Linked DNA regions of Homo sapiens: all the other regions are linked to region 1. The links come from fine-mapping of genetic effects on gene expression. A gene starts in region 1. Each other region holds a variant in brackets. All regions are shown on one strand. Distances are from middle to middle.

Region 1 (7,912 bases):
CCAAATGAATTACAGGTATGAATATATACATTTATTTATATTTACATTTATATTTATCTGAGATACTTCCTCAACCAATGACTAAAAACATCCAAATTGGAAATTATAACACTTGGGTAAATAAAGACCTTTCTTGGGAATTGACTTTTTAAATCCTATTCTTGGGAAAGAGAAAAAGAAAAGAAAAAAGCGTACTTTGGGAGGCTGAGGTGGGAGGATTGCTTGAGCTCAGTCAGGAGGTCAAGACCAGCTGCCTGGCACATGCCTGTAGTCCCAGCCGCCTGGCACATGCCTATAGTCCCAGCAACCTTGGGGGGGTGGAATACAGGGGCTGGGGGGCAAGTTGCTGAGGTGGCAGGATTGCTTGAGCCCAGGAGGTTGAGGCTGCAGTGAGCCATGATTGTGCCACTGCACTCCAGCCTGGGTGACAGAGCAAGAACCTGTCTCTGGAAAACAAACAAAAAAAAAAGAATATGGTCTCATACAGCTACAATTTAAGTGACTAACATGCCATTTTATTTTGGATAAATGATACTTAAGTGATTCAAATTATCACTATTAGATCAATGACAATCCAGGCCCTCTAATATATGTTAACACATTAATTAATACTGTTTTAACTGCCCCTCCCCCCCCAACCTGTAACTTTTAAAGACTCAGATTGGTAGTATAAGTGTTTTAGACAAGCCATGTGCTGGTAACACGTATCTCCCCATTGTTTCCTACCTTCCTTCACACAGTAAACAAACCATTTTAGAGTCACTTATATGACCTCATTATCAAACACACTTGAAGAAGCCACAGGTGTACTCTACTTAACAAGTCAGTGACATTTCTTTGCATCAGTTCTAAAATAAGTTCATTCACTAGATAATAAAGAGAATAAAACTAAAAATCCTAGGTCTCAACTGAATAATCAGTTTTAATAAAATCACCTCTCCATATGATTTTTTTTAGTAACTCACAATCAGGAGTGGGAATTACAGAACCATGAGATTAAACTAATAATCTAACAATTAGTCAAGGCAATGATTAAGCCAATATAATGTTTCAAGAGGAAGAACTGAGCTTTTTTTTTTTTTTTTTTTTTGAGACGGAGTCTTGCTCTGTCGCCCAGGCTGGAGTGCAGTGGCACGATCTCGGCTCACTGCAAGCTCCGCCTCCTGGGTTCACGCCATTCTCCTGCCTCAGCCTCCCGAGTAGCTGGGACTACAGGCGCCGCCACCTTGCCCGGCTAATTTTTTTGTATTTTTAATACAGACGGGGTTTCACGGTGTTACCCCAAAGTGCTAGGATTACAGGCGTGAACCACGGCGCCCGGCCAGAACTAAGCTTTTTATATCGTTTAGTTTAGGAGCAGGAAGGTAAAAATAAGATCATGGTCTGGACATGTTAAATTTGAGGAATCAGGCACAAACATCTGACAATTAGAAACATTACCAGAGTACAGAAGAGGGCTCCAGAAAGAAAATGAGATCTGAGTCATCTCCACAGACAAGACAGTTCACGTTTGAGTAAACAAGATGAAAAATAAAAACAAGGATGATGACAGAATCTTGGAAAATGACTACATTTAGAGAATGCAAAAAAAAAAAAAAGAGGAGAAACTAATAAAAGTTATTGTTGGTCAGGTAAGGTAAGATAAAAGGCAAAATGTCATTAAGACCTAGAATGTCTAATAAGAGTTTCAAAAAGTAGTAGCTATCATTACAGTAACAAACACCAAAAAGGACCCAAGAAGAAGTACTGAAAAAAACTAGAAGGCCATTGGGATGTGGCAGTGAAAAGTTTTGTGATTTTTAAGATATCAGGTGGCAAAGGTTTGGGAAGGAGAGAAGGCAGCAGAGAGAAAGGCACATATCTTGCCAGTTTTTAAAAAGATTAGATAGAGAAATCCACTCTCCTATCTCCAAGGCAAAGACCTACATTCACAGTCTAATGTAAACCCAGTGGGGAGCTGGCAAACAAACTGAAGCAGGGAGGGGAGAGAAAAATCCCTTATTTATACCTTATTTATAGCATTTGATGATTTCCGTGGTGTAAATACTCCCACCATGGCCAATTTCAAGCTGCCAACCGTTGGCAAAATTCCTGAAAATTTAGCAATGGCTTGCTGGTACAAATCAACTCCAGCACACAACTGCAAATCACCTCTTTTATGGTCTACCCTGCAACTGAGCAATTCTGTGACAGCTTTCTCTCAACTCAATTGACACTAAATCATTCTCTAGGACAACTTAAAGCAATTCACAGAAGTCTACTCTACTCTCATTACATTTAGCTTTCTCAACTGTATTGCAACTGAAAGGGGTTGGATGTTGAAAGCAAAATGGATCCCAGTATGCCTGTCTTCACTAAGTGCCACAAAGCAAAGGACAAGAATCATATTCTCCAAAAAGCCATCAGATGACCATTTTATAACTTTCCTTTGTTAATGTTATCTCCCTATCTAAACCTCAAATGTCTTAAGGGTAGGGAACTGTATTCAAACAAGAGCCAAACATCCCACATGAGTCCCAATTCCAGTGACAGGCAGCAGGGATACAGGGTAAGCACCTTAGATTAAATCCAGACACCTCAAAGGGTTCCACAAAGGGTTCCAATCCAGCCCTGCTACTTGCTGGCAGGCTGTTAGCAGCCTTTACAGTGGCAGTTTCAACTGCAAAATGGGAACAATAATACCCAGCACACAGGGGCAACCTTGGATTTAACAGGATCACTTCTGGGGATAGTCACTGGACACTGCTAAAGCATATTGCCAAGAATACCAGCGAAGCCCACTTCTGTCTAGAAACTATGGCTGATCAGCTGCTAAGGATTTTTTAATCATCTACCTCCAATGACCTCCAACCATCACTCCAAGCCATAAAACCCTTTCACGATTGTGTCCTGGACTCCAAGGCCCCACTACATCAAAACCAAATAGTCCACCTGAAAGTAGTGTCAAGAGTCAAAAATGTTGTGACAAACAAGATGAGAACACAACCTACCAATTACGTTCCTACTTGCGTCCACATGACATTCAACATTTCACCTCAGTGCAACGAGGAAGTTCATCAACAAACCTCAACAAATAAACAAAACTCAAGAGAATAACTTCCTTTCTAATATTTCACAATTTTTCCCCATGACATCTTTCCAAATATCCCTGTCTTCATGGTACTCCATATTCTATCATTTAGGTTATGTTTCCTAGGCAAATTTCTCCAGACGTCTGAAGTAGAACCGACGTCAAAAAATTAAATATATATGGGGGAAGTTTACTTTCCAATACAAACGACAGGCCTTGAGAAACAAGGCAATAACCTCCATAACAATTTAATTATTCCACTCATTAACTACTATTCTTCTACTAACAAGTGCAAGAAGTCATTTAGGTGTAGAAAAGAATAAACTCACTATACCTGTATATAAAAAAGTTTCACATTAGACATCTGCCCTCCAACTTCCACAGTTTCCTATACATTATGTGTGTTCTTCTAAGGCACATGCAACACACACTTCGCCAGTAAAGCCAGAATAATCCCAGAAGCGCAAACAAATAAGGGACAGTGGAGCTTGCAAGCCAAAGACCTTCATCCGAAAGATGAATTATGACATTTGAACGTGTATCTCTATCTTAAGGGCTAACTTTCTTTCTATGAAGTATCTGAAACTCACAGCCATACACCCACTTCCCTCACTCCTTCTCCCCTCCCTCCTTCCCGGCACCCCCGCCCTCCCGCCGCTTCCCGGGCGAATTCGGGCCTCTAATATCCCCTCCAAGGAAGCGCCGCCCCTTCCTACGGCTACGGGAAGGATCGTCCAGTGGCTGAGGCTGGACAGAGCACAGGTAGTACCTGTAGACGGAAGCCGCGATGGGAGGCTGACAGACCCGGTCATTTCCCGCGCCTCGCAGTCAGGTGCAGGGTCGACCGGGCACCGCCCGCCGGCGGCATTGGGGCAGGCCGGGTCCCTTGGCAGAGCCCGAGCCGGTGCGGCCGCCGCGGCCAGCTCCGTCGCCGGCCCGCGGGGTGGCTTATACAACAACGGGGCGGACCCTCCGCGCGGGGTCAAGGCGGCCTCCCGGCGCGGCCGGAGTCCGGCTCAGACACCTCGGGGCCCCGACGCTGAGGGGAGCCTCTCCCAGGCAGAGCGGCGCCGGGACGCCTCTGGGCGCCGCGCGGACTCATGCCGGGGAGGGTCGAGGAAGCCGCCCGTCGTCGCCAGGCGGGCGGCGACTCCTTGGTGCTGCCCGCTGGGCCCTAACCCGGCCCGCGCGGAGGGTGCGCGCCGGAGACACACGAAGCCCCCTGCCGGCTGCGCTTACCTCTCTCCGGTGTCGGCAGAGTCCACCTCCTCCTCCTCCGCCGCCATAGCCGCCGCCGCGCAAGCGCCGGGACTTATCTCGAAGCCGGCTGACAGGCCGACTGGGCCGCCCCGGGCTGGCGCGGCACTTAAGGCGGCGCAGGCCGCCAGCGCATGCGTCTTCCGCGCACTAGCACGGCCCGGCGGCGCGCCCGCGTTTGCGCGTGCGCGGCCTTGCCTCCGGCTTTGCGTCCGCCATCCCCAGCCAGCATGCACTAGTTCTCCCGCCCGACGCTCCCGGGTGTAAGCGCGGGGCGGGACAGTCAGCCCAGAGGGACTGGCGAGACTCACCCGAATGAGTTAGGTGTTTTAGCTAATTTGAATAATGACTGTATTCATGCATCACCCCGTCGGTGTTGGCTGTCAGGTGGCACCTTGGGGACGGAGGTGCGTCCGGTCCTGGAAGAGCCTAGCTAGTGTCCGATAGATGGTGCAGTGGCAAATGAAATGGCGTAATCGAGGTGCTGTGTGGCGTCCCGCCAGCCTTTCCCCGCGGGTTGGGGGGCCAGGGGGAGAGGGCGACTCACAGGAGCCTTCAGTCAGTTGAGCACTGCTCTAGGTGCTGATGTTACTGTAGTGGCCAGAGCCAGCAATTTCCCTCCCACTCGACTCTCTAGATACCTGGGAGGGTGAAAAGAGTCGGTGTTGGCCGGGCGCGGTGGCTCAGGCCTGTAATCCCAGCACTTTGGGCGGCCAAGGCGGGCGGATTTTCTGAGGTCGGGAGTTGGAGACCAGCCTGAGCTGAAGAAACCCCGTCTCTATTAAAAATACAAAATTAGCCGGGCGCGGTGGCGCATACCTGTAATTCCAGCTACTCGGGAGCCTGAGGTAGGAGAATCGCTTGAACTCGGGAGGCGGAGGTTGCGGTGAGCCGAGATCGCACCATTGCACTCCAGCCTGGGCAACAAGAACGAAACTCCGTCTCAAAAAAAAAAAAAAAAGTCTATGTTTAGGTACTTCGAGTTATTGAGGTGAAATGACTAACCTAAATAGCAGTATTTCTTGACCTGTTTTCAAGCCTTTTAGCAATCAGGTGCAACCTGCTTTTGGAATTCTGCCACCCACTACTACTCATCCATTTATGTTTGGTGTGTGTCTACTATGGGCTCACTTTGTTCTAGGTGCTTGAAAACAATGGGTTGAAATACTGCTCCTGTTTTGATAGATCCTACGCGAATATATTAACCTTTATTTTAGACTCAGTTCATTGTTCTCCTTCCCTGACTCTCCTCCCTCTTTTTCTCTCCTCTGAGCCCCACTGTAAACCTGTCTTTATCACCCATCTAGCTCTCAGGTTCTCAGCCTTGTGTAATTGTTACAGCTTTTAAATAAACATTATCGAATATCTTTCCAACTACACGAGAAAGTCCTCTAGGATAGGAATGGTGTCTTCTGTAATTTAGAGGGGGGAAAGCCACTTATAATCTCTTAGGCATAGTAATAACTAATACATTTTTTATTGTGTTTGATCTAATTCATAAAATATTTTAGGGAAGACCAGAACATATAAAAAACATTTTTACAGGAATTCCTGGTTGTTTCATGAAAGGGCCGTATATTCAAAGTGACCTCCAAATACAGAAGGAGCTGAGAAACTAAAGAATGAAGGAGACAAATCCAGCTTGTCAGCAAAAGGTGATTTATTAGGGAACTTACGGACAGAAGCATGGTCTTGGACAGCAGCAAGACAGGTAAATCTCTGTGCTGTTACCCTCCCAGACTAAGGTTGTTTTGACCTAAGGGCAGGTAGGTAAGTATGTGCTCTGATACAATTTGGGTGTTGTCCTCTCTAAATCTCATGTTGAATTGTGATCTCCAGTGTTAGAGGTGGGGTTTGATGGGTGGTGATTAGATTCTGGGGGTGAATTTCTCATGAATGATTTGGCACTATCCCCTTAATGCTGTCCTTGCAATAGTAAGTTCTTGTGAGATCTGGTTGTTTAAAAGTGTATGGCACCTACCCCTCACTCTCTTGCTCCTGCTCTAGTCATGTAAGATGCCTGCTCCCGCTTTGCCCTCTGCCGTGAGTAAATGCTCCCTGTGGCCTTTCCAGAAGCCAAGCTGATACCAGCACCTGTATAGCCTGCAGAACCATGAGCCAATTAACCTTTCTTTATAAATTACCCAGTCCCAGGTAATTCTTTTTTTTTTTTTTTCTAAGACGGAGTTTCACTCTGTTGCCCTGGCTGGAGTGCAGTGGCATGATCTTGGCTCTCTATGACCTGCACCTCCCAGGTTCAAGCAATTCTCCTGCCTCAGCCTCCTGAGTAGCTGGGATTCCAGGCACCCGCCACCACGCCCAGCTAATTTTTTGTATTTTTAGTAGAGATGGGGTTTCACCATGTTGGCCAGGCTGGTCTTGAACTCGTGACCTCAAATGATCCTCCCTCCACTGCCTCCCAAAGTGCTGGGATCACAGGCATGAGCCACCGCGCCCAGCTGTATTTCTTTATAACAATGTAAGAACAGCCTGTCACATGCTCTTATACAAGGAACAATAGATAAAGTAGAAAACTTGGAGGCCTTCCCAAAACTGGGGTTACTCAGAAATCAACATTGTGGATTAGCATCTGAGATGGAGTTACTTTAGCCTCCACAATAGTGTTGCCAGACACTTGTAGTGTGTCTGCAGAAACTGATGCCCTACAATCCCACCTCTCAGAGTGTCTGTTGAAGACCCTACCGCCTGGAACACAGTGCAAGCCCAGTGGTACTGAGTCCAGTAATGAAACCTTAGGATTTTGCAGCAACTCCTGTAGCGCTTTGGTCTTTATGGACCTGGAGTCTGCTCTCAAAGATGCCTGTGCCTGCTGCACAGTCACAAAAAAAGAAAAGAAAGAAAAAAAGAGAGAAAGAGACCATTGATCCAATACTAGAGTTTATGCAGAAACTGACAAGCAGTGCATAGGACTACAGGACTTCATGATCTTCCTCAACTCTGGGAGTAGCTCTGTTCTAGCTTCACCTTGCTGCTGATGGAGTCATCTTCAACAATGGCAAGAAATCCAAGCTAGAATTGGCCATCCACCTATCCCCTGGGTGTTGCCAGCAATGGTGGAACCCTACAACTCTATCCTGACCACCGTGCCACCCTGGAACCCTTGGACTGTGTCTTCTTGGGAGACAATGGACCAACACATGTCATTGCAACCTATACCCCCAGGGCCCCACATACTTTAACCACTGCTTGGACCAGACTTCCTCCATCACTACCTCCCTGAACTTTGATGGTACCCTGAAAGCAGACCTCTCAGAGTTTAAGGCCAGCTTGGTCCCCTACCTCCAAATTAACTTCCTTTTTGTGACCTACTAACCAATTACCTGGTTGAGCAGTGCTTACATTTGGAGATCGCCAGTACCTACTTTGTACTCTCCAATCAGATGGCCAGATATGACACTGACCAAAGCAAGTACAGAGCTTGCTCTGCATGTTCTGCCCCAGGGTTGTAGCCTAAAGACTGAATGCTGCCATTGTCCCACCAAGACCAAGTGTGCCATACACTTGGTTGATGACTGGTGCCCCACTGGGTTTCAGGTTGGCTTTAATTTCCAGCCCTCCAATAGT
Region 2 (7,912 bases), 27 kb after region 1:
ACCTTACTCCTGCAAGAATGGGCATAATAAAAAAGTCAAAAAACAATAGACGTTGGTGTGGATGTGGTGAAAAGGGAACAGTTTTACCCGACTGGTGGGAATGTAAATTAGTACAACTATGAAAAACAGCATGGAGATTCCTTAAAGAACTAAAAGAACTACCTTTTGATCTAGCAATCCCACTACTGGGTATCTACCCAAAGGAAAATAAGTCATTATATAAAAAGATACTTACACACACATGTTTCTCCATGATTGGCAATTGTAAAGATGTAGAACCAACCTAAGTGCCCATCAACCCATGAGCGGATAAAGAAAATGCAGTGTATATATACACCATGGGATACCAGTCAGGAATAAAAAGGAACAAAATAATGTCTTTTGCAGCAACTTGGATAGAGCTGGAGGCCATAATTTTAAGTGAAGTAACTCAGCAGTAGAAAACCAAATATCATATGTTCTCATTTATAAGTGAGAGCTAAGCTATGAGGATGCAAAGGCATAAGAATAATACAATGGGCTTTGGGAACTTAGGGTGCAGGGAAGGTCAGGAGTGGGATGAGGGATAAAAGACTACATATTGGGTACAGTGTATACTGCTCAGGTGGCGAGTGCCCTAAAATCTCAGAAATCACCACTAAAGAACTTACCTATGTAAGAAAAAACCACCTGTACCCCCAAAGCTATTGAAATACAAATCAAAAAATTTTAAAAAACAATAGTGTAACTACACAAATTAAATTACATGGATTGGGCTGGGTGCAGTGGCCCACGCGTGTAATCCCAGCACTTTGGGAGGCTGACATGAGCGTATCATGAGGTCAGCAGTTTGAGACTAGCCTGACCAATATGGTGAAACCCTGTCTCTACTAAAAATGCAAAAATTAGCTGGGCATGGTGGCACACGCCTGTAATTCCAGCTACTCAGGAGGCTGAGGCAGGAGAATTGCTTGAACCCAGGAGGCAAAGTTTGCAGTGAGCCAAGATTGCCCCACTGCACTCCAGCCTGGGTGACAGAGCGAGACTCTGTCTCAAGAAAAGACAAAAAAAAAAAAAAAAAAAAAAAAAACATGCATTGTATTTTAATGCATGAGGATTAAAAAACAAGAAAGGGTCAAAAAACAAGATCCAACTATATGTTCCCTTCAATAAATTTCACTTTAAATATAATTACACATGTAGATTAAAAATAAATGGATGGAGAAAGATATACCATGCTAACATTAATCAAATCATATACCCTACTAAAATTAAAAACTGTATATATTTAAGGTGTACAATGTGATGATTTGCCATTCTGCCATGTGAAGACACAGCATTCAGGCTTTTCTCCATGTGAGGATGCAGCAAGAAGAGCCACCCAAGAGCTCTCTTAGAAGGGAGCAAGCCCTTAACAGATGGCAAATCTGCTGGCACCCTGATCTTAGACTTCTCAGCCCCCAGAACTGTGAGAAATAAATTTCTATTATTTATAAATTACCCATCTATTTTACTATAGAAGCAGGAATAGTCTGAGACAGAATGGACTGAGAATATTGATAGATATCTATGATTGATTGATAGATATATAGATATAGTCTTTCCCATCTTGAGTATCTTGTCAGTGTAATTATAATCATCTTTATTTCTTGAAAACAAATGACAAGAAAGCAATTATCACTCTAAAGAAAATGTATAGAATACTGGCTAAATCCCCAAACAAGAAAAAATTAGGTCTCTTACATTAATTTTTAGCTATTTTAACAACTTACAGAAAACTAATTACGAGGTTTAGTTAAAAATTCAATTCCCCCAATCCAGAATGAGATAATTCATACTCCATGTAACTGTAATTCTTAATCTCTTCTTTTCCAGTTGTTTGAATCATCACTGTAATTTAGCCTTTATTCAAGTGGGAGACTTTTTATTCTCTTGAGAGAAAGAAAACAAAGGGACATTAAGTACTTCTTTTGAATTATTCTTTAAAGCTTGAAATATAGGTTTTATTTCAAAACCAGTGTTTGTACGTTGAATAGCATACAAATCAGGGTTTGAATTAAAATCCTTGAAGATATGACAGAAATATAGTATTATTTTAAATTTAAATGTTCCTTAACATGTAAATGACTTAAAATTACATTAATATATTTTTTGTCATCTGCACGTTCTGTAGCTCCTTTGGAGTTATTAAAATAAAAGTGTATTGAAAACAAAAACAAATACCTAACATAAAAGCACATGCTGAAACCTCTTTATAATTGTATAATTAAACACCACCAAGTTGGGAAATGTTAAATTGAACATTTCATACAACCATCAGTTCCTGGCGTTGCATACAATGAGAGCATTATTCAACTTCACTCACAAATAACTGGTTGAATAATATAATTACATTTAAACTAGCTAATTGGATCTCAAAGTCAGAGCTACGACCAACCAGTGAATCCTGAAGATTTTGCGAATTACTCATATTGTGTTCTTGAGCAGGAGCAATATGTTTTTAGAAAGGTGTTGACAGAGAGGAAGGTAAATGAAAAGGAAGGCAAGAGAACAGTAAAGAAGGCAAACTTGAGTTCTCCATAATAAGTGCCTTAAGATCACCAATGCTAGATGACCAAGATTTTTCTCTTTTTTTTAAATTATATATGTTAAGTTCTCGGTTACATGTGCAGAACGTGCAGTTTTGTTACATAGGTATACACGTGCCATGGTGGTTTGCTGCACCCATCAACCTGTCACCTACATTAGGTATTTCTCCTAATGTTATCCCTCCCTTAACCGCCCACCCCCCACAGGCCCTGGTGTGTGATGTTCCCCTCCCTGTGTCCATGTGTTCTCATTGTTCAACTCCCCCTTACGAGTAAGAACATGTGATGTCTGGTTTTCTGATCTTGTGATAGTTTGCTGAGAATGATGGTTTCCAGCTTCATCCATGTCCCTGCAAAGACATGAACTCATCCTTTTTTATGCCTGCATAGTATTCCATGGTGTATATGTGCCACATTTTCTTAATCCAGTCTATCATTGATAGACATTTGGGTTGGTTCCAAGTCTTTGCTATTGTTAATAGTGCCACAGTAAACATACATGTGCATGTGTCTTTATCGTAGAATGATTTGTAATCCTTTGGGTATATACCCAGTAATGGGATTGCTGGTTCACATGATATTTCTAGTTTTAGATCCGTGAGGAATTGCCACACTGTCTTCCACAATGGTTGAACTAATTTACACTCCCAACAGTGTAAAAGCATTCCTATTTTTCCACAACCTCTCCAGCATCTGTTGTTTCCTGACTTTTTAATGATCGCCATTCTAACTGGGGTGAGATAGTATCTCATTGTGGTTTTGATTTGCACTTCTCTAATGACCATTGATGATTAGCATTTTTTCATATGTCTGTTGTCTGCATAAATATCTTCTTTTGAGAAGGGTCTGTTCATATCCTTTGCCCATTTTTTGATGGGCTTGTTTGCTTTTTTCTTGTAAATTTAAGTTCTTTGTAGATTCTGGATATTAGCCCGTTGTCAGATGGATAGATTGCAAAAATTTTCTCCCATTCTGTAGGTTGCCTGTTCACTCTGATGATAGTTTCTGTTGCTGTGCAGAAGCTCTTTAGTTTAATTAGATCCCATTTGTCAATTTTGGCCTTTGTTGCCATTGCTTTTGGTGTTTTAGATGTGAAGTCTTTGCCCATGCCTGTGTCCTGAATGGTATTGCCCAGGTTTTCTTCTAGGATTTTTATGGCCCTAGGTCTTATGTTTTAGTCTTTGATCCATCTTGAGTTGATTTTTATATAAGGTGTAAGGAAGGGGTCCAGTTTCAGTTTTCTGCATATGGCTAGCCAGTTTTCCCAACACCACTTATTAAATAGGGAATCTTTTCCCCATTGCTTGTGTGTGTCAGGTTTGTCAAAGATCAG[A/G]TGGTGGTAGATGTGTGGTGTTATTTCTGAGGACTCCGTTCTGTTCTACTGGTCTATATATCTGTTTTGGTACCAATACCATGCTGTTTTGGTTACTGTAGCCTTGTACTATAGTTTGAAGTAAGGTAGTGTAATGCCTCCAGCGTTGTTCTTCTTGCCCAGGATTGTCTTGGCTATGTGAGCTCTTTTTTGGTTCCATATGAAATTTAAAGTAGTTTTTCCAATTCTTTGAAGAAAGTCAGTGGTAGCTTGATGGGGATAGCATTGAATCTATAAATTACTTTGGGCAGTAAGGCCGTTTTCATGATATTGATTCTTCCTATCCATGAGCATGGGATGTTTTTCCATTTGTTTGTGTCCTCTCTTATTTCCTTGAGCAGTGGTTTGTAGTTCTTCTTGAAGAGGTCCTTCACATCTCTTGTAAGTTGTATTCTTAGGTATTTTATTCTCTTAGTAGCAATTGTGAATGGGAGTTCACTCATGATTTGGCTCTCTGTTACTGGTGTATAGGAATGCTTGTGATTTTTGCGCATTGATTTTGTATCCTGGTACTGCTGAAGTTGCTTATCAGCTTAAGGAGATTTTGGGCTGAGATGATGGGGTTTTTCTGAGCATACCATTATGTCATCTGCAAACAGAGACAATTTGAATTCCACTCTTCCTATTTGAAAACCTTTATTGCTTTCTCTTGCCTGATTGCCCTGGCCAGAACTTCCAATACTATGTTGAATAGGAGTGGTGAGAGAGGGCATCCCTGTCTTGTGCCAGTTTTCAAAGGGAATGCTTCCAGTTTTTGCCCATTCAGTATGATATTGGCTGTGGGTTTGTCATAATTAGCTCTTATTATGTTGAGATATGTTCCATTGATACCTAGTTTATTGAGAGTTTTTAGCATGAAAGGCTCTTGAATTTTGTTGAAGGCCTTTTCTGCATCTATTAAGATAATCGTGGTTTTTGTTGTTGGTTCTGTTTATGTGATGGATTACGTTTATTGATTTGCATATGTTGAACCAGTCTTGCATCCCAGGGATGAAGCCCACTTGATCATGGTGGATAAGCTTTTTGATGTGCTACTGGATTCGGTTTGCCAGCATTTTATTGAGGATTTTCGCATCAATGTTCATCAGGGATATTGGCCTAAAATTCTCTTTTTTTGTTGTGTCTCTGCCAGGCTTTCATATCAGGATGATGCTGGCCTCATAAAATGAGTTAGGGAGGATTCCCTCTTTTTCTATTGATTGGAATAGTTTCAGAAGGAATGGTACCAGCTCCTCTTTGTACCTCTGGTAGAATTCAGCTGTGAATCTGTCTGGTCTTGAACTTTTTTTGGTTGGTAGGCTGTTAATTATTGCCTCAATTTCAGAACCTGTTATTGGTCTGTTCAGAGCTTCAACTTCTTCCTGGTTTAGTCTTGGGAGGGTGTATGTGTCGAGAAATTTATCCATTTCTTCTAGTTTTTCTAGTTTATTTGCGCAGAGGTGTCTATAGTATTCTCTGGTGGTAGTTTGTATCTCTGTGGGATTGGTGGTGATATCCCCTTTATCATTTTTTATTGCATCTATTTGATTCTTCTCTCTTTTCTTCACTAGTCTTGGTAGCGGTCTATTTTGTTGATCTTTTCAAAAAATCAGCTCTTGGATTCATTTATTTTTTTGTGTCTCTATCTCCTTCAGTTCTGCTGTGATCTTAGTTATTTCTTGTCTTCTGCTAGCTGTTGAATTTGTTTGCTCTTTCTTCTCTAGTAGTGTTAATTGTGATGTTAGGGTGTTGATTTTAGATCTCTCTTGCTTTCTTTTGTGGGCATTTAGTAGTATCAATTTCCCTCTACACACTGCTGCTTTAAATGTGTCCCAGAGATTCTGGTACGTTGTGTCTTTGTTCTCATTGGTTTCAAAGAACATTTTTATTTCTGCCTTCATTTTGTTATGTACCCAATAGTCATTCAGGAGCAGGTTGTTCAGTTTCCATGTAGTTGTACAGTTTTGAGTGAGATTCTTAATCCTGAGTTCTAATTTGATTGAACTGTGGTCTGAGAGACACTTTGTTGTGATTTCTGTTCTTTTACATTTGCTAAGGAGTGTTTTACTTCCAATTATGTGGTCACTTTTAGAATAAGTGCGACGTAGTGCTGAGAAGAATGTATATTCTGTTGTTTTGGGATGGAGAGTTTTGTAGATGTCTATTAGGTCCGCTTGGTGCAGATCTGAGTTGAAGTCCTGGATATCCTTGTTAGTTTTCTGTCTCGTTGATCTGTCTAATATTGACAGTGGGGTGTTACAGTCTCCCATTATTATTGTGTGGGAATCTAAGTCTCTTTGTAGGTCTCTAAGAACTTGTTTTATGAATCTGTGTGCAACTGTATTGGTTGCATATATATTTAGGATAGTTAGCTCTTCTTGATAAATTGATTCCTTTGCCTTTATGTAATGGCCTTCTTTGTCTCTTTTGATCTTTGTTGGTTTAAAGTCTATTTTATCAGAGACCAGAATTGCAACCCCTGCTTTTTTTTGCTTTCCATTTGTTTGGTAGATCGTCCCCCATCCCTTTGTTTTGAGCCTATGTGTGTCTTTGCATGTGAAATGGATCTCCTAAATACAGCACACCTATGGGTCTTGACTCTTTATCCAATTTGCCAGTCTGTGTCTTTTAATTGGGGCATTTAGGCCATTTACATTTAAGGTTAATATTGTTATGTGTGAAATTGATCCTGTCATTATGATGCTAGCTGGTTATTTTGCCCATTAATTGATGCAGTTTCTTCATAGCATCAGTGATCTTTACAATTTGGCATGTTTTTGCAGTGGCTGGTACTGGTTGTTCCTATCCATGTTTAGTGCTTCCTTCAGGAGCTCTTGTAAGGCAGGCCTGGTGATGACAAAATCTTTCAGCATTTGCTCGTCTGTAAAGCATTTTATTTCTCCTTCACTTATGAAGCTTAGTTGGGCTGGATATGAAATCCTGGGTTGAAAATTCTTTTCTTTAAGAATGTTGAATATTGGCCCCCACTCTCTTCTGGCTTGTAGGGTTTCTGCAGAGAGATCTGCTGTTAGTCTGATGGGCTTCCCTTTGTGGGTAACCCAATCTTTCTCTCTGACTGTTCTTAACATTTTTTTCCTTCATTTCAACCTTGGTGAATCTGACAATTATGTTTCTTGGGGTTGCTCTTCTCGAGGAGCATCTTTGTAGTGGTCTCTGTATATCCTGAATTTGAACATTGGCCTGCCTTGCTAGGTTGGGGAAGTTCTCCTGGATAATATCCTGAAGAGTGTTTTCTTTTTATTGTTTTTGAGATGGAGTTTCACCCTTGTTGCCCAGGCTAGAGTGCAATGACATGATCTCGGCTCAACGCAACCTCCGTCTCCTGGGTTCAAGTGATTCTCCTGCCTTGGCGTCCTGAGTAGCTAGGATTACAGGCATGCACCACCACGCCCGGCTAATTTTGTAGTTTTAGTAGAGACAGGGTTTCTCCATGTTGGTCAGGCAGGTCTCAAACTCCTGACCTCACGTGATCCGCCAGCCTTGGCCTCCCAAAGTGCTGGGATTACAGGCGTGAGCCACTGCGCCCAGCCAGAGTGTTTTCTAACTTGGTTCCGTTCTCCCTAACACTTTCAGGTACACCAATCAAACATAGATTTGGTCTTTTCACATAGTCCCATATGTCTTGGAAGCTTTGTTCGTTTCTTTTCACTCTCTTTTCTCTAATCTTGTCTTCTTGCTTTATTTCATTAGTTTGATCTTCAATCACTGATATCCTTTCTTCTGCTTGATCGAATAGGCTATTGAAGCTTGTGTATGCTTCACGAAGTTCTAGTACTGTGGTTTTCAGCTCCATCAGGTCATTTAAGCTCTTCTCTTCACTTATTTTTCTAGTTAGCTTGATCTAACCTTTTTTCAAGGTTTTTAACTTGCATGTGATGTTTTAGAACATGCTCCTTTAGCTTGGAGAAGTTTGTTATTACCAACCTTCTGAAGCCTACTTCTGTCAACTCATCAAACTCATTCTCCATCCAGT
Region 3 (7,912 bases), 47 kb after region 1:
AGGAGGGTGAGATTCTGGAAACTTGGATAGGTAAGAGAAGGTCTCCTGGGCTTCAGCCTGGCTGTAACAAGTAACCTAGATGGAGGTTGGTTCCCTTGAGAGAGGTGAAGAAAGAATGTAACAATGAGTTGGGCACGACAGCCAAAGTAGAGAGATGAGGGCCTTTAATGGTAATAGTAGTAGTTGAGGCCACAGCTATGCTAATCACTGTTCATGTATTTAAACTTGTTTAATCCCTACATAAACCTATGAATTCTGAGCTATTGTTACCCCTTTACAAATGAAGTAACTGAAACCCAGAAAGGTTTAGTCTATCTATGTCACACTACTGTTAAGTGATTGCATCAGAATCCTAAACTCTGCAATCTGTCTCCTTCCAGAGCCCATGGGGATATGGCTGAAAAGTAATTAGAATTAGACAGTAAAAGGATTTGAATACTTCGAATACAGAGTAGTGTAATATGATGGTTAATTTTATGTCTTAACTTCACTGGGTTAAAGGATATCCAGAAAGCTGGTTAAACATTATTTCTGGGTGTGCCTGAGAGGATGTTTCCAGAAGAGATTAACATTTGAATCAGTAGTCTGAGTAGAGAGGAATTTGCTCTCACCAAGGTGTGTGGGCATCACCCAAGCCGTTGAGGGCCTAGAGAGAATAAAACTGTGGGAGGAGGGTGAATTCACTCTCTCTTCTGGAGCTGAGACAGCCATCTTCTGCCCTCGGACATCTAAGCCCCAGGTTCTCAAGCCTTCAGACTCTGGGGCTTATACCAGCGCTCCCCCAACTCCCCAACACACACCACTGGCTTTCCTAATTCTCCAACTTGCAGACAGCAGATCATGAGATTTCTCACCCTCCATAATCATGTGAATCAATTCCCATAATAAATCTCTTATCTATCTATTTATCTATGGGTATAGAATACACACACACACACACACACACACACACACACACACACATATATACACATATCTTTTTGGTTCTGGTTCTTTGAAGAATCCACACTAATACATCCAGTCTTCTGGACTGGACCCATAAATCAAAGGAATCATACTCCAATGGCAGACTTCCAGACCTTAACAGTTGGAAGGTCGAAGAGAATTTTCTTCTTTGGGAAGGGAGGGTGCTTTTCTTTCCCGCTTTTCACAACAAGCCAGTCTTTACCTTCCAGATGTTGTACCCCCACCTTCAGGGATGACTCCATAATACTTGAAAGGGACAGTTTGTGTGACCAGCACAAATTTCTCATTTTAGAACCGAACTAGAAGTAAACAGTCATATGAGTCTATGTAAAGAAAGAAGAGGCCAGGTGTGGTGGCTCACACCTGTAATCCCAGCATTTTGGGAGGCTGAGGCAGGCAGATCACCTGAGGTCAGGAGTTCAAGACCAGCTTGGCCAACATGGTGAAACCTTGTCTCTACTAAAATACAAAAATTAACTGGGCGTGGTGTGGTGGCAGGCACGTGTAATCCCAGCCACTCAGGAGGCTGAGGTGGAAGTTGCAGTGAGTCAGGATTGCACCACTGCACTCCAGCCTGGGCATCAGAGCAAGACTCCGTCTCAAAAACAAACAAACAAAAAGTAGAGACTACTGACTCAGCATGACCATAACCATGGCTCTGTCTTCTAAGGCTCCTTCCACCATAAATTTGTTATCTTAGTTCTCTAACTCAAAGACGAATTCACAATCTCAGCCACACATGCTGTTACAATGAGCATATACAAGGATCAGGACAGGTAGCAGGCAGAAGTGTGCCCTTGGTCTACTCTCCCTCCTCCTCATCATCCCTGCTCAAAATAGGGAAGTGGAAAGAGTCCCCTCTTAGAAGCATGGGAATTAGAACTCCTCGAATCTTTTGTTTTCACATTGTATCAGAGTAAAACAACTAAAATTTACATACTAAAACAAGCTAATCTATAACTTTGAACATGACTCTGCAGAAAAATAAGAAACTTCCCACAGACGTTTTCCACTAGTCAACTAAGCTACTTAAAACAGGTAGAGGCCAGGCGCAGTGGCTCATGCCTGTAATCCCAACACTTTGGGAGACTGAGGCGGGTGGATTGCCTGAGTTTAGGAGTTTGAGACCAGCCTGGGCAACATGGCAAAACCCCTTTTTACCAAAAATACAAAAAATTAGCCAGGTGTGGTGGTGCGTGCCTGCAGTCCCAGTTACTCGGGAGGCTGAGGTAGGAGGATCGCTTGAGCTTGGGAGGTGGAGGCTGCAGTGAGCCCAGATCGTGTCACTGCACTCCAACCTGGGTGACAGACCCCATCTCAAAAAAATAAAAATAAAAAACACCAGGCAGAGATACTTAAATAACTTTGCCAGAGCCTTTGAAAAGCTAAGTGCAGAGCTATCAGAGTAAATAAATGTGCCCAGGAAATAGCTCTAGGGGCTTGACTGGGAGTAATGGGAGCAGGGTTATTTTTTATTTTATTTTAAGCAAACATAGCACAGCCTGCACATGCACATGTCCGACTTCAAAGCAATCACTTCAGAAAGAATACTAGCTTGAAATATTTTAGAAATGTTTTTAGTGGAATTGTCTTCAGAGGCAGAGAATATTCTCTTTAATATCCCTAGGAGGAGTTCAACCTTAAATTTTTTTTTTTTTTTTTTGAGACGGAGTCTCACTCTGTCGCCAGGCTGGAGTGCAGTGGCACGATCTCAGCTCACTACAACCTCTGCCTCCTGAGTTCAAGCGAGTCTCCTGCCTCAGTCTCCTGAGTAGCTGGGATTACAGGCACCTACTACCATGCCTAGCTAATTTTTGTATTTTTAGTAGAGGTGGGGTTTCACCATGTTGGCCAGGATGGTCTCAATCTCTTGACCTTGTGCTCCGCCCACCTCAGCCTCCCAAAGTGCTGGGATTTCAACCTTAAATCTTTGAGATGCGTTTGCTTTCTGAAGCCAACCACAAATTAGACCAGAGCCTTGCATAGTGAATAAGGAGGATAATCAAGATAAATAATGAATAATCAAGTTGAATCACTGAAGATCTCTAAATGAGATGTGGCCTCCTTGACTGTTTATTGGCTTTGTAAATTTTTAAATTTAGGATTGGTGGAGTACAGCCATATTGCCTACCTTTTTGACAGATGGATTGGTATGTATTTGTGATGTCGTTGGTATCAGCCAGGTTCTGGCAGGACACAGGCTGCACACTCAATGAACAAGAAGGCATACCTGAAAAGGGTTCAAGAGGGCCTCTTTACAGAGGTGCAGACAGGTTGAGGAAGCAACTGAGGGCAGTGAAACACCCAGGGTGCCAGCACCAATGGGAAGGTGTTACCGCCCAGGCCTGAAGGGCAAGTGGGAGGAAGGGCCTATCAGAAGTCAGCAAGAGCTGCAACCAGAAGGGTGGCTGACCCATTGAAGAGGTGGTTATGGAGAGCACACTGCAGCACCTGCCAAAGGGAATCCAGTTTCTCTTATCTTGTGCTCAGATCTCCTGGCAGTGTGACAGTCCCCCATCAGAGTAAACCCAATCAAAAGCCAGGGGCAAGGCTACTGAGTGATGTCATCCACAGAGGTGAGCCTTGTGGAGGAGAGCAGGCCAGGTAGGCCAGATCTTGGATCTGGAGAGGCCAGTGGAGGACAGCACAGACACACTGTGCGTGCATTGTTCCTCTCTGTTCCAGGGAGGGAGGGAGCAGTTCTACTCTATGGCAGAGTAACCAAGTCTACTCCTTGATCTCATTTCTCACCCTCCCACCCCCATGTTTGCTTCTTTGTCTCTGTGTGCTGCATTACAGCAAGTTAAAGTCTAAAACTAAATCAAGTTATTTCCTGAGGAAAAACTGGGCTTTTAAATACATAGTGTTGGGACAAATAGAAAGCCACCTGAAAAAGGATGGAGTGAATCTAAACCTCACACTAAAATAAATCCCAAATGGACCAGAGATCCAAATATACAATGTGCAATCAAGGAGGTTTGGCACAGGTGAATTACTTTATAACCTGGGGACACGGAAAGCCTTTTCAACATTCAGCAAAAACAAACAAACAAACAAACAAACAAAAAAATCAGGGAAAGATTGGTGAACTTTACTACCTAAAACAAACAAAATACAAGAAGCAAGGTCAAAAAACAAATGACAGACCAGGAGAGACCAATTTCAAGTTATCTCAGCGGTGGCTCACGCATGTAATCCCAGCACTTTGGGAGATCAAGGCGGGCGGATCATGAGGTTAGGAGA[T/C]TGAGACCATCCTGGCTAACACAGTGAAACCCCGTCTCTACTAAAAATACAAAAAAATTAGCTGGGCGTGGTGGCGGGTGCCTGTAGTCCGAGCTACTCAGGAGGCTGAGGCAGGAGAATGGTGTGAACCCAGGAGGCAGAGCTTGCAGTGAGCCGAGATTGCGCCACTGCACTCCAGCCTAGGCGACAGAGCGAGACTCCATCTAAAAAAAAAAAAAAAAAAAGAAAAGATGAGGACAAGTACATGAAAAGCTTTTAACAATGGATAAGCTCCAAAATTGCATAAAAATATGGGCAAAAGTCATGAAAAGAGAGAAATGTGAGAACAGAGCGAAAAGAAATGCAAGTCACTCCCTACACATATGAAATGACGCCCAATTTCCCTTACAATAAGAGAAATGCAAATTAGAATTCTTCTGGATCCAAACATTTTATAACATACTCTACTGAGAGTGGAAATGCAAAATGGAACAAACCCTATGGATGGGGATTTGGCAAAATTGAGCAAAATTACATATGTGCTAACCTTTCACCCAGCAATCTCGTTTCTAGGAATCTACCTTGAAAATACATCTCAGGCAGGGCGCGGTGGCTCAACCCTGTAATCCCAGCACTTTGGGAGGCCGAGGCGGGTGGATCATGACGTCAGGAGATCGAGACCACCCTGGCTAACACGGTGAAACCCCGTCTCTACTAAAAATACAAAAAATTAGCCGGGCGTCGTGGCGGGTGCCTGTAGTCCCAGCTACTCGGGAGGCTGAGTTAGGAGAATGGCGTGAACCCGGGAGGCGGAGCTTGCAGTGAGCCGAGATTGCGCCACTGCACTCCAGCCTGGGCAACAGAGCAAGACTCCGTCTCAAAAAAAAAAAAAGAAAAAAGAAAAGAAAATACATCTCTACAAATAATCAGTAACATTTGCACAAGGTTATGTAACACAACATTGTTTGCAGTAGCAAAAGATTAGAAATAATCTAAACATCCACCAACAAGAGAGGCTGTAAATAAACTGCAGTACATACATGAATTGGCGACCAGGCATCATAAAACACAGAAAAAAAAAAATGTCTGTGAATTGAAACAATCTCCAGAATATATTTTTAGATTTAAAAAGTTAGTATAGTATGCTATATTTTGTGTGTAAGGGGGAAAAAGGAGGAATAAGAATATATTTAGGTATTCGCCTATATTTGCAAAAAGAAGCAATAAAAATAATTACCTATAGGAGGTGGGGGGAATGAAGTGAAGGGAGAGGGTTAGGAGTGAAACTTCTGTGGGTTTGGTTACCTTTTCGTGTATTTTTTAACTTTGGGACCACATAAATGTTTTATATATTTAAAAAATTCAAATAAAAAAGACAAAAGTAAAATCCTAAAATGGAAAACAATTGGGACCAATGAGCTTAACTTTATTTCAAATGTGGCAACCACAGCTATACAAAGAACAGAATTATTTCAGTACTTTAATTATACACTCATAATGGATTTGATCTAAGGATAAATGAATAGAAGGAAATCTTAAATTTCAGTCAGTAATTTATTATTTATATAGTATTATAATTCTGAACTAGGAGAAAACAAGTGTACAATTCTGAATTAGGAGGAAAGAAACACTATATTATTACAAACCAAAACTTTCAGTGTAACAGAAAAGAGAGGCAAAAACAACTATTAAGTCAAAGAACTTAAAATAAAACACTGTAAGGTTAAATTTGCATTGAGAAATTCACATTAAATAACCTTTTAAAAGTGTATTTGTCATTCCTGGATCTGTTCACTGAAAGGGCTTTGAAGCAATGATACCCTTGTGTCAATTAACATACCTTGCCCCTTGATCTTGGCATCGAAATATCATTTCTCACCAGTAAGGAGAATGTCCTTATTAGGAAATGCATGTTGAAATATTTAGCAATGAAATGGCATGAGTCTACAGTTTATTTTCAAATGGCTCAGCTGTGTGTGTGTATCTGTGTATGTCTGTATGTGGGTGGGTGGGTAGGTGGTAAGGATCTAATTATTACACCAAGCAATCCCTTTTCCTGCACCTGGCATAACCTCCTGTAGAATGAGCTCAAGCTTCCCACACTCGCTTGATGACATGGCCTCCATTCTGAAGATGAAACAAAACTTGGAGGAGCACTCATGTAAAGATCTAAATTACTAAAATGCCTGTGCCTGAGACTCAGAGATCCTAAAAATAGACAGTGCCATGTGTGCTCTAATTTTCTGCTTAAAGTGACTTAAATCCTTTCAATTCAGACATTTTCAATAGAATATATGGTACTTCAACCTTATAAGTCAAATGCATTTGTTGAAATAACATTTCTCAGTAGTTTTTTCAGTTTCCGTGGCTGCAATGGGTGGAGAACTTTCATTAGCAGTTATTGGCTTTGGTGTGGCAATGGATGTTGCACAAAGGCCTTTGCTTGGGAGTTGGGAAACACAGGTTCTCATTGGGCTCTATAACTAACTTGCTATGTAGCTTTGTATAAGTCATATCACCTTTTGGGATCTTGGTCTTTCAACTGCCGAATATAGGTATTGGATTTTTCTTCTACTGTAAACAGTGATTTGGAATTTTCTCCAAGTAGAGTGATATGTCTACCATAACAGGGGTAACAAGAAAGAAACAAGAGTGAGAGTTTATTACAGCATGAAGTGGCACCAGGAATAGGAAAGGAACCCCCAATCCAGATAATTTTTTGATATCAATCTTGTGTCAAATTCTTTAAACATATGACAATGAATAAGAGCAACAAATGAATCCTCAACTATAAGAACAATATTTTGGTATATAATTTTATGTATAATTATCCTTAGTTCCAATAATTATTTTCTTTTTCTATCTAGAAGGAAAAGGATGGATTCTGAGTGGTTCCAGCTAGCCATAGCTCCCTATAGCTGCAATTCATGTGGCAGCCTGCGTGTATGCTAGCGTTGGCTGAGGATTTTTAATGCACTTCAGATTTTGGTTTAATATGCTTGCAAATAACTTACCATGGAAGTCCCCTTGAAACACATTAAATTCTCTGTTTACTCGCATGACTGGGGAATTAGACAATCAACCATGACAATCTATCAAAAGTATTAGAATACAAAAAGCACTAAGCATGAAATCTTATTGAAAACCATTTCATTCTCTTAATTATTCATTAGGTTCCTCAGACTCTGAGAGACCTTCAAGGTCATTATTATGAATATTAATTATCACTGTAATGTGGCAATGGAAAAATGCATTTTAAAAGAGTTCTGTTCAGTAGAATACTGCTAGTAAAAGAATTCACCATTTTATTTGGGAGTGTGTGCTCTTCTGCTTTTTTGCTACATGGTGAGAAAATAGGAACATTAGAAATGAAACTTCCAGAATCTTTTTAGTGCATGGGATGGGTTCCAGTTTGCATGATTCCTGTGCAAAGGCCTGGGAGGAAGGAGTACCTGCTGACTGGGGTCAGGGAGGAGTGGAATGAAGTAGTGCCAGGCAAAGATGGCAAGTTCTCCACTGGCCAGGGTTGATGCTTTGCCCTGCTAGCCAGTTGTTTTTAAAAAAATTCAGCCAATATCCACCAGATGCCTTCTCTTCACCATGCTTTTTGTTGGTTTAGAAACAACAGAATGGACTTGGTTGAGTGGTGCAGCTTCAAGTAAACTCTTTCCACATTATAAGCTGGGGGTATATTTTTTAACCTTTTCTTCCCTGTTCCCTCAAA
Region 4 (7,912 bases), 180 kb before region 1:
GCAGGAGGGCTGCAGCCCAGACTTGCTGTGATTGGAGGAATTCAAGAGCTAGAGGCAGTGTGTGTTGGGGGCGGGGAACACAGGGGGAACAAGAGAAGAGGGAACGAGAGGCTTGTGGGGTTGGGAGCAACAATAAGCGTCTGGAAGGGATGGTCTTGTGAAAACCAAGCTGCCGTTTGATCCAGACGTCTTGGAAAAATACAAAGTCCCTGTTAGCCTCTTAGGCTTGGCTGCATTTTTGTAAAAAAAAAAAAAAAAAAAAAAAAAAATGGGGAAGCCTTCTGTTTTTCTTTCCTCTTGTTTGTTTATGGTAGAGAAAAATGAGGTTCCTGTGTCTAGACCAGAGGGAAAGGGGGTAAAGACCATGAAGAGCCATGCTGGCCACCTGATGGGGCCACAGGCACTGAGACCTGTCCTTGGTCAGCCAGCATTGGGAGAGGTTTGGGGAGCGTGTGCTTGAGAGAGGGCCGTCATGCAAGAGGGGTCCATCAGCATTGAGGGAGGGGAGGCCTGGGGATAAGAAGGATGAGTAGATGCTCCCCAGGGGTGGGGAGAGCCCGGCAGCCTTCCAGTACAGTCATCTCCAGGACTGCAGAGAAAGCTGCTTCCTGTTCTGGGCTCTGTCATACCCCCCTTCATTACTCCCCAGCCTCAATCAGATTCCATGACACACAACAGCATCCTGTTAGCAGTGCTTGGGGGAATGAAGACAGAGGGTGGTGACTACATGAGAGGGAAGGACAAAAAGAGGGGGCAGCAGCCCAGGTGGGGAGAAACAGGGGGCAGGCTTCAGGGAGTTTGAGACAAACTCCCTTTTCTCAAAAAGAAAGGGAAAGAGGAGCAACGAAATACAGGGAGGCTAGCCAAGGGGAAGACACAGGCAATGATAATTGTCATGTACTCTTTTCTGAGCAACAGCTCCCTCACATAGAGCAGGAATCCCGTGGCTCTTTAAGGAGGAGGTATAAGACACTGATTCTGAATCGACCCTACAAGGGCTGGGGTGGCAGGCATTCCAGGCAGATCTTAGATGATGAGGCTTAGAGAGGCCCAAGGTTACGCAGCTCAAACATGAAAGAGACGGGGTTGGAACGTGGCTCCACCTGACTTCCAAGGGCAGCATGTCTCTTATTGCACCACAAGGCTGCCCGTGATGCTGTTGCCTCCAGCTCTGGCAGGGCAACATGGAGTCCTGACCCACAAACAGTCCTGTCCTTCTCTTATCACTGCTGAAGCTCCAGGACTCAGCCATTATGAAATCCAACCAAGCTTCTGGTGGTGAGTGCCTCATTACCCTGTAATCCCCGTTTATAACAGAGGTTTTCTTCCCTGGAGAACATGGGCTGAGGATCCTTGGACATGAGAACCAGAAGTGCTGGCTAGTTCTGTCTCTCCCTGGAAACGTGGCCATCTCTTGGGAGTTTGCTTCCTGCAAGTCAGTCCCGGCACCTATCACCTTTGGGTGTTGTACCAGTTGCTGCTTTGCTCTGCCCAAGCTCCTTGGATCCCCTTCACCATTTTTGTGCCCATAGACACCTCTTGTGCTTTCTCCTTAACAGCCAGCATCTGAGGACAGCTCTCAGGCTGCTGAAACCCACTTTGCCTGTGTGCATGGAGAGCTGGAAATGCCTGGGATGTGCCTCTTCCTGGGGCTACCTGTGACTAATGACTGATCAATCCCCAGCTTCCCCCACCCCCAGACACTCTGAGGTGTCACCTGCCCTATCTCCAGAGCTCACCTGGGGGAAACAGCCAAAGTTACCCTCCAGGCAGGATGTCACACTCCTGCTTCTTGGTCCTACTTTCCCACTTGCCTACCCGTTTTTCCAGGGAACAATTGCTAATAAATCTTTTTCAAATGAATTGCTTCCAGATGAATCCTCATCTCAGGGTTGGCTTTGGGGAACTCAAACTAAGACAGTTATATTAACAAATCTAATTGCTGAGCCTCCAAAGCTGAGAACCAGCAGACTGGTTCCATGGGCTGAATTTGGCCAGCAGTTGTATTTTGTTCAGCATGCCTCCTCATCCCTCCTGATCTCTTCTCAAAGCAAACACTCTGTTTGCCATGTGGAAATAAAATTCTTGACCTTGGCTAATAGAGTGCTTATCAACTGTGTTGATCCTTCACAAAGAAAAGCAATGCATGTGGCCACCACATAGCAAGTGCTTCAAGAGCCACTAGTATCTCCTGCAAACTTTGCAATTACCTGTGAGAAAGAAGCTAACATCGTCTGATTTTAACTGATGAGGATTCTGATTCATAAGGGCTTGTTTACCCAGTTTCATATCTGGGGGCCAGCAGAGATGGGGTTTGAACTGAGGCAATTTGACTCCAAAAGACATGTTCTAACCACTGTGTCACATAGAGACCCGGGAAACCCACGCCTGCCCTCCTGGCCCCCAATCAAGGCCATCTCATAACTGGTGGGATTTTCACCTGGTTTTTGAAACTTCGATTTGGTTTTTGCTTGTCTCTTTCCCTATTATTTACTTTCTTTCTTTCAACAGCTTAGGGCTTGATTTGGGTAGGCACAAGAATAAAAAATGATTGAGGACGATGTATTTTTGGAGGAATTTGTATCTTTCTGTAAAAGAAAAGACTAAGCATCTACATATATTTAAATTCTCAAATTGCAAAGTGGCAGTTCCTGGGACCCAGAAATTCCACAGAATTTCTAAGGCTGCTTCCAGAAACTGGACCTTTATGTGCATGGGGCTGTGGGTGAACCAGAGCAAGTCGTCAGGAGAGGAAATCTGCCCCCCTCCCCACCTTGTGCCACTCCTCCTCCAACAAGCTGTCAACTCTGCAGTGGAGAACAGTGCCAGCCTGCAGGCTTTCTGTTCCCAGAGCTCAGGGGATGACTCAGTTACTGAGGTATTTCCTTTTTTCATAAGCCTACCATGCAGAGATTTTCAAATTATTTCCCTGAAATGTTTCTCCCCTCACCTTTGCTGCATGCCTTGTCTCCAGAAGGCACAATTTTCAATAGATTCTTCCTAACAACGTACCAGCCAGCATCTATTAGGCTCTTCTTAGATGCCAGACACCCAGCTCAGCATTTCATATCTGTCAGCCCAGCGCTCCCTCACAGCCACACTGGAAGGTCTGCATACTAGGCTTCCCATTTTCTGGATGAGGAAAAGGAGGCCCAGAGAGTTTGCCCAAGGCCATTTTGTCCAGAAGTAGCAGAGGTGGAGCTCAAACCCTTGCCAGTTTGCTCAAACCCTTTAACCACTCTGCTATACTGCCCCATTACTATTAAAATATTCTTTTTATCCATGGTAGATTGTATTACTTGTCTGAAATCGTTGCTACCCTCCTATCCCTTGATATGACTTTCCCGTGGGCAGATCCTCTACCCTTAACTTTGGCTTTGGCCATATGGCTTGCTTTGGCCAATGGAAAGAGGATGGAAGTTAGAGTGTGTCATTCTGAGCTGAGGCCCTAGGCAGATAGCACGTTCCTGCCAGTCCTCTTGGCATTTCCACTCTCTGCCACAAGAAAAGCACATTCCTGAAGCCAGCTTGAGCCCCAGCAGAAAGCTGGGACAGCTCACTCTACCTGTGGGACAGTCTTGGTCCCAACCTGATGCCCTGAGTGAGCCCCTCTCATCTAAACTTGGCTGAGTCCAGCCAAGACCAGCCAAAGCACAGCCAACCAGCACATGGTGGGTACAAAATCAGTGGTTGCTGTAAGCTACTGAGCTATCAGGGCTGTTTGTTATGGGTCATTTTTGCAGCAAACCTCTCATCAATATATGTATTATCATTCTAGTCTAGCCAGTGCCACATGGACCGGCTCTCAGCATCATGGTGGTGGAGTGCAGGATCACACTCTCAGGGAATGAATGGGTCTGTGAAATCATCTGACCCGGCTCCCCTTCCTAGCCTTCATCCCTCCCTGCCTCCTAAGGCAG[A/C]CCTCTTCTTCTCTGGACACTCTGAAAGGAAGTCTTCCCTAGGTTGAACTTTGAAAGTCTGTGTTCAGCCAACAATTCATGATTCCTGCCTCTTCTTCATAAGATTGGCACCTGAGTCCCTCACAACCTTTGTCACTCTCTTACAAGCACACTTCTGCTTGTCAATGTCCCTCCTAAGCTACGGGTAGGGCCACTTGCTGGTTTGCTCTCATATCCCTGCCGTGTCCTGTTTCCCATTCTTCTCTGCATCGTAGAGGGGTGAGCCCTGCGAATGAGTGTCCTGGAGTTCTTGCTCACTGGCTTGCAGATAGGTGTGGCTATCAAAAGGCTCTGGGGAGAGATTGGGAGAGGAGAGACAGGGAGGAGCCAGGGTACTTCTCCCCACTATCCCTGCTCCAGGTAGTGTTTCTGGCAATGGCTGAATGTTCTCCATGGGTCCAGCTCCTTCTGTCAACAGGCCTCCCACTGTATCCTCTCCTTCCAAGTCCTATCTAGTGGCCCCTAGAACCCAAGTTTGGGAGTATCCCCTCCTCCTTTGACCCTTCCAGCCCAAGGGGTGATGGTGGCTTCTAGTTGTAGCTAAACTCTCGGTTGCCTCTCCTTCTCCTGTTTCTTTTGCAGCTAACTCTTCTGACCCTTTGCCCTTCCCATATTAAATCCCCCTCATCTCAACTACTTGGCCTGGACCATTCTGTTTTCCTCAATGGACATTGACTAATACAGCCTCCTGACTTTTCAGGGATTCATCTCACATGATATACAACATGCCCACCCTTTATGCAAACAGAATTTACATGTGAAAATAGGACATGAGTTGAATTGCAGTTGACTAGCTAACAAAATGTTAAATTTTGTAGCTGTTTAATTATCAATATATTAATTTCGAATAAAGTTTTATTTTAGCACTGTTTTGCCAACATGTTTTTCCCTAGCCCTTGGGACACTTTTGTAGCCCTTAAAAAGCTCATGGGCTCTGTGGACAAAATCACTCTGATGGTGGTGACTGAAGTAAACAAAGATCAGTTGCAAGAGACTGTCTACTCCAGAGAGTTGCTCTCTCAGTGAAAAGCCAAGAGGAAAAGGAACCCAAATCTTCACTGTTGGGTGCCATTTTGCCCAGAAATTCTCTACTTTCCCATCCAATAAGACAGTGTTTTTATCCTTTAAGAGGCCCAGAGCTCTGAAAGACTTTGTGTCTATGAGATGGAGTTTCTTCATGATCTGAGAGGCAAGAGGATTGTAAATGTGTCAATGGAATTCAGATTTCCCAAGTTGCCCAACCACTATAATACAGTTAAAAGCAAAACTCCCCTGGAAGGCTGCCGAGACTCTAAGGCAGGATGCTGCACAGCCTTGAGAAGACAAACAGCAGCTCTGACAGCCCCTCCTTTGCAAATGGATTTGGCTCTGTGAGCTGGGCTCCACAGCACGGTGAGACTTAGCCCTGCTACTGAGCTGTGTGGCTCATCCTGGTAGGAAAATGGCCACACCTGGGAAAAGAAAATGCTGCTGAGGCCTGAGGCCAGCACCCAGACACTGAGCCCTGAGTCTTCTCATCAGGCCGATGGGAAGAGTTCATCTCGTCAGCCAGATGAGGAGCTGGGCCATGGCAAACACATGGGGCTGTGGCCAACTCAGTGGGCACAGCAGGGCTTGGTATGAAACACCCACCAGTCTGACCAGTCACCCCCCCACCCTTGCTTCTCCGCAGCTGGTGGCACTAGGGAATTTGATTCTGTGACACCCCCACTGCCCCTGCCCGCCCGCCCGCCCATTGTGGACAGCAGTGGGAATGGAGATGAAAGCCTCTTGGTTGGAGAGAGACCCATTGGGAATAGTGCTGAAGACAGAACTAAGCTAATACAGCACGTCACATAAAGAAGAAGGAATGGGGAGGGCCTGGCTCAAAGGGGACATGAGTCCAGTCTTTAGCCATTCGAAGGACATTAAGCAAGAAGGCTTTATTGAGCACCTATCCAGTGTCTTCCCCTTTCACCGGCATGCCCCTGGGCTGCTGACCTCACTGTATTTTCCAGAACACCCCTGAGCTGAGAAAAGTTGGACCAGTGAATGTGCTGTTGTATAATATGCCCTTGTTTATGTGATGGGGAGTTGTCATCCAGGGGTTAAGGCCAGAAAAGTGGCAGATCACGGGAGCCAGGCAATAAGAGGTGCTTGAGATGGAATAAAATGGAGCAAATTAAATTTACCAGAATTTTTAGGAAGCAAAGATGCCAAGCAGCATGTGTTTGAAATGAATCTTCTGCTACATTGCCTGTGGGGAGGAAAGCTGTGTTCCCCAGGGACATGCTCTACTGCCTAGTGGCTGACTCAGGTGGTCACTCAGTAAGAATTTGCTGAAGAAATGCTTGGGAAACACCAGAGGTTCTCTAAACAGCCTCCCAGGGTGTAGGTCCCCCTAAGTGAGGGCTTTGGTTTAGCTGAGTAAGAGGTGAATGCCAGTGCTGTTAATAATCTTCTTCATTCCCACCACAGAGCTCAGCCTCACCCTTAAATCCACCTTGAACAAATATTTGCAGAATATCCTATGCATGGGGACCTCACTCTTTGCCATTCCAGATCACTTAGGTCAGGCATGGTCAGAAGTCAGAGTTCCAGGATGGGAAGACTAAGCTCTGCCTCTAGCCAGCTGTGTGACTTTGGGTCTTGACCTCTGTGGGCTTCAATTTCCTTATCTGCAAAATCATGGTCTAAGACTCAGACTTGAAGCATTGCTCTGGGCTTTTCTTGAAATCAGGCAGGCAGCACTTGCTGAAGACAATGCGTTTGAGATCCCAAGAGGCTAAGAGGTGAGAGTGAATGGAAATGATAATAACTAATGCATGACCAGCATCTACATGAGCATGGAACACTTGTTAACCTGCTGCATTCTTACAGTGGCACCCATTTTGATCAATCGCTTCCTGTCCTCAGCCCCACTAAGGTGTGGGGCTAATGTCATATTTTCACAGATGAGAGGGAAAATTGCAAGCATTAACCTAAGACCAGAGACAGTAAGCAGGTGTGTGGACGAGGTACTGCCTGGTCTTTCGTAGCACAGGCCCACAGTGCTGGTTCTCCCTAGAAGGCGTGAGCATGTACCTGGATACCTGGCCACAGGACCTCTGGGCCAGCTGCTTCCTTCTTAGGAGTTGACACCCCCTCACATCCTCACTCTGCCGGGAAAGGCCTTGAGACAGAGAAGAGCCTGTGCTCACGGAGCCGGCCTAAGTCCTGTTTACCACTTAGTCGCAGCCAAATGGAATAAGTGCAGTATTGATTAATTGCAATTTTTTTGGAATACATATTCACTCTGATGTTTTATCATTAATGCATTAAGAAGCTGAACAAGCAATAAGACCAAATGGACTTCAAAACACAGCAAAATTTCCATCCAGTGCGGTCTGATTTACAGCCATTACCTCCTGGCACAAGACAGCCCCCATTATAGCCCACACCTTGGCTGAAACTTGAGAGGTCTTTGTTCTTAACCTTACTTATTTATTTCCTCCAACAGCAGGTATACTCCGGCTTTGTGCCACAGGGCAGGACCTTCCTGGTGATGGGGTACATGTGCTGGAAGGCTGGACAGAGGGAGAGGAGTCAGCTTCCTGCTGCATGCAGATGGGGGGACTGCAGACCCTGACCTGGTTATGGGGGAACATGGTGACCTCACCTCCCATCCTCCCCAGCAACAAGCTTCAGAGGGAAAGGAGGACTCAAGGGCCGAGTGACTCCAGCTCACTCTATCAACTCACTCTGCGCATCTGTCAGCTGCTGCAGTGCCCTGTGCGTCATGGCTGGGTTGGGCACTGGCTCTGTCATTAGCTGATGGCAAGAAAGACTGGCTGTTTTCTTTCCTGTTTGGGGGCCTCAGTTTCCTCATTCGCCAAATAAGGAAACTGGACTGGACAATTTCTGAGAGCCTTAAAGATGCAGCAGCTCATGACTCTTCCCTCTCTCCCTCCTTCTCTCCCTTCTCTCTTCCCTCT

The links. PIP is the estimated chance that this variant, and not a neighbour inherited with it, causes the effect.
Region 2: its variant is the best candidate, but not a certain one, in a credible set for the expression of ABHD5 in whole blood (INTERVAL, PIP 0.53).
Region 3: its variant is the best candidate, but not a certain one, in a credible set for the expression of ABHD5 in whole blood (TOPMed, PIP 0.68).
Region 4: its variant is the best candidate, but not a certain one, in a credible set for the expression of ABHD5 in nasal epithelium (TOPMed, PIP 0.57).

The regions. Positions count from the first base shown.
Region 1 is chr3:43,687,437-43,695,348 of GRCh38, reverse strand. It overlaps ABHD5 (abhydrolase domain containing 5, lysophosphatidic acid acyltransferase), which reads right to left and starts at 4,411. Exons shown (of 7, transcript NM_016006.6): 1 at 4,310-4,411. The coding sequence starts at 4,356. It also overlaps a transcript of ANO10 not described here and the pseudogene TUBAP3. RefSeq lists a silencer at 3,760-4,239.
Region 2 is chr3:43,660,230-43,668,141 of GRCh38, reverse strand. It overlaps a transcript of ANO10 not described here. Among named protein-coding and RNA genes, the nearest start is that of ABHD5, 27 kb to the left of the region's middle. The variant A/G (reference allele first, on the strand shown) is at 3,901.
Region 3 is chr3:43,640,205-43,648,116 of GRCh38, reverse strand. It overlaps a transcript of ANO10 not described here. Among named protein-coding and RNA genes, the nearest start is that of ANO10, 22 kb to the right of the region's middle. The variant T/C (reference allele first, on the strand shown) is at 4,210.
Region 4 is chr3:43,865,234-43,873,145 of GRCh38, reverse strand. The region is part of intron 1 of LOC107986081 (a long non-coding RNA gene); the gene reads left to right. Among named protein-coding and RNA genes, the nearest start is that of ABHD5, 180 kb to the right of the region's middle. The variant A/C (reference allele first, on the strand shown) is at 3,921.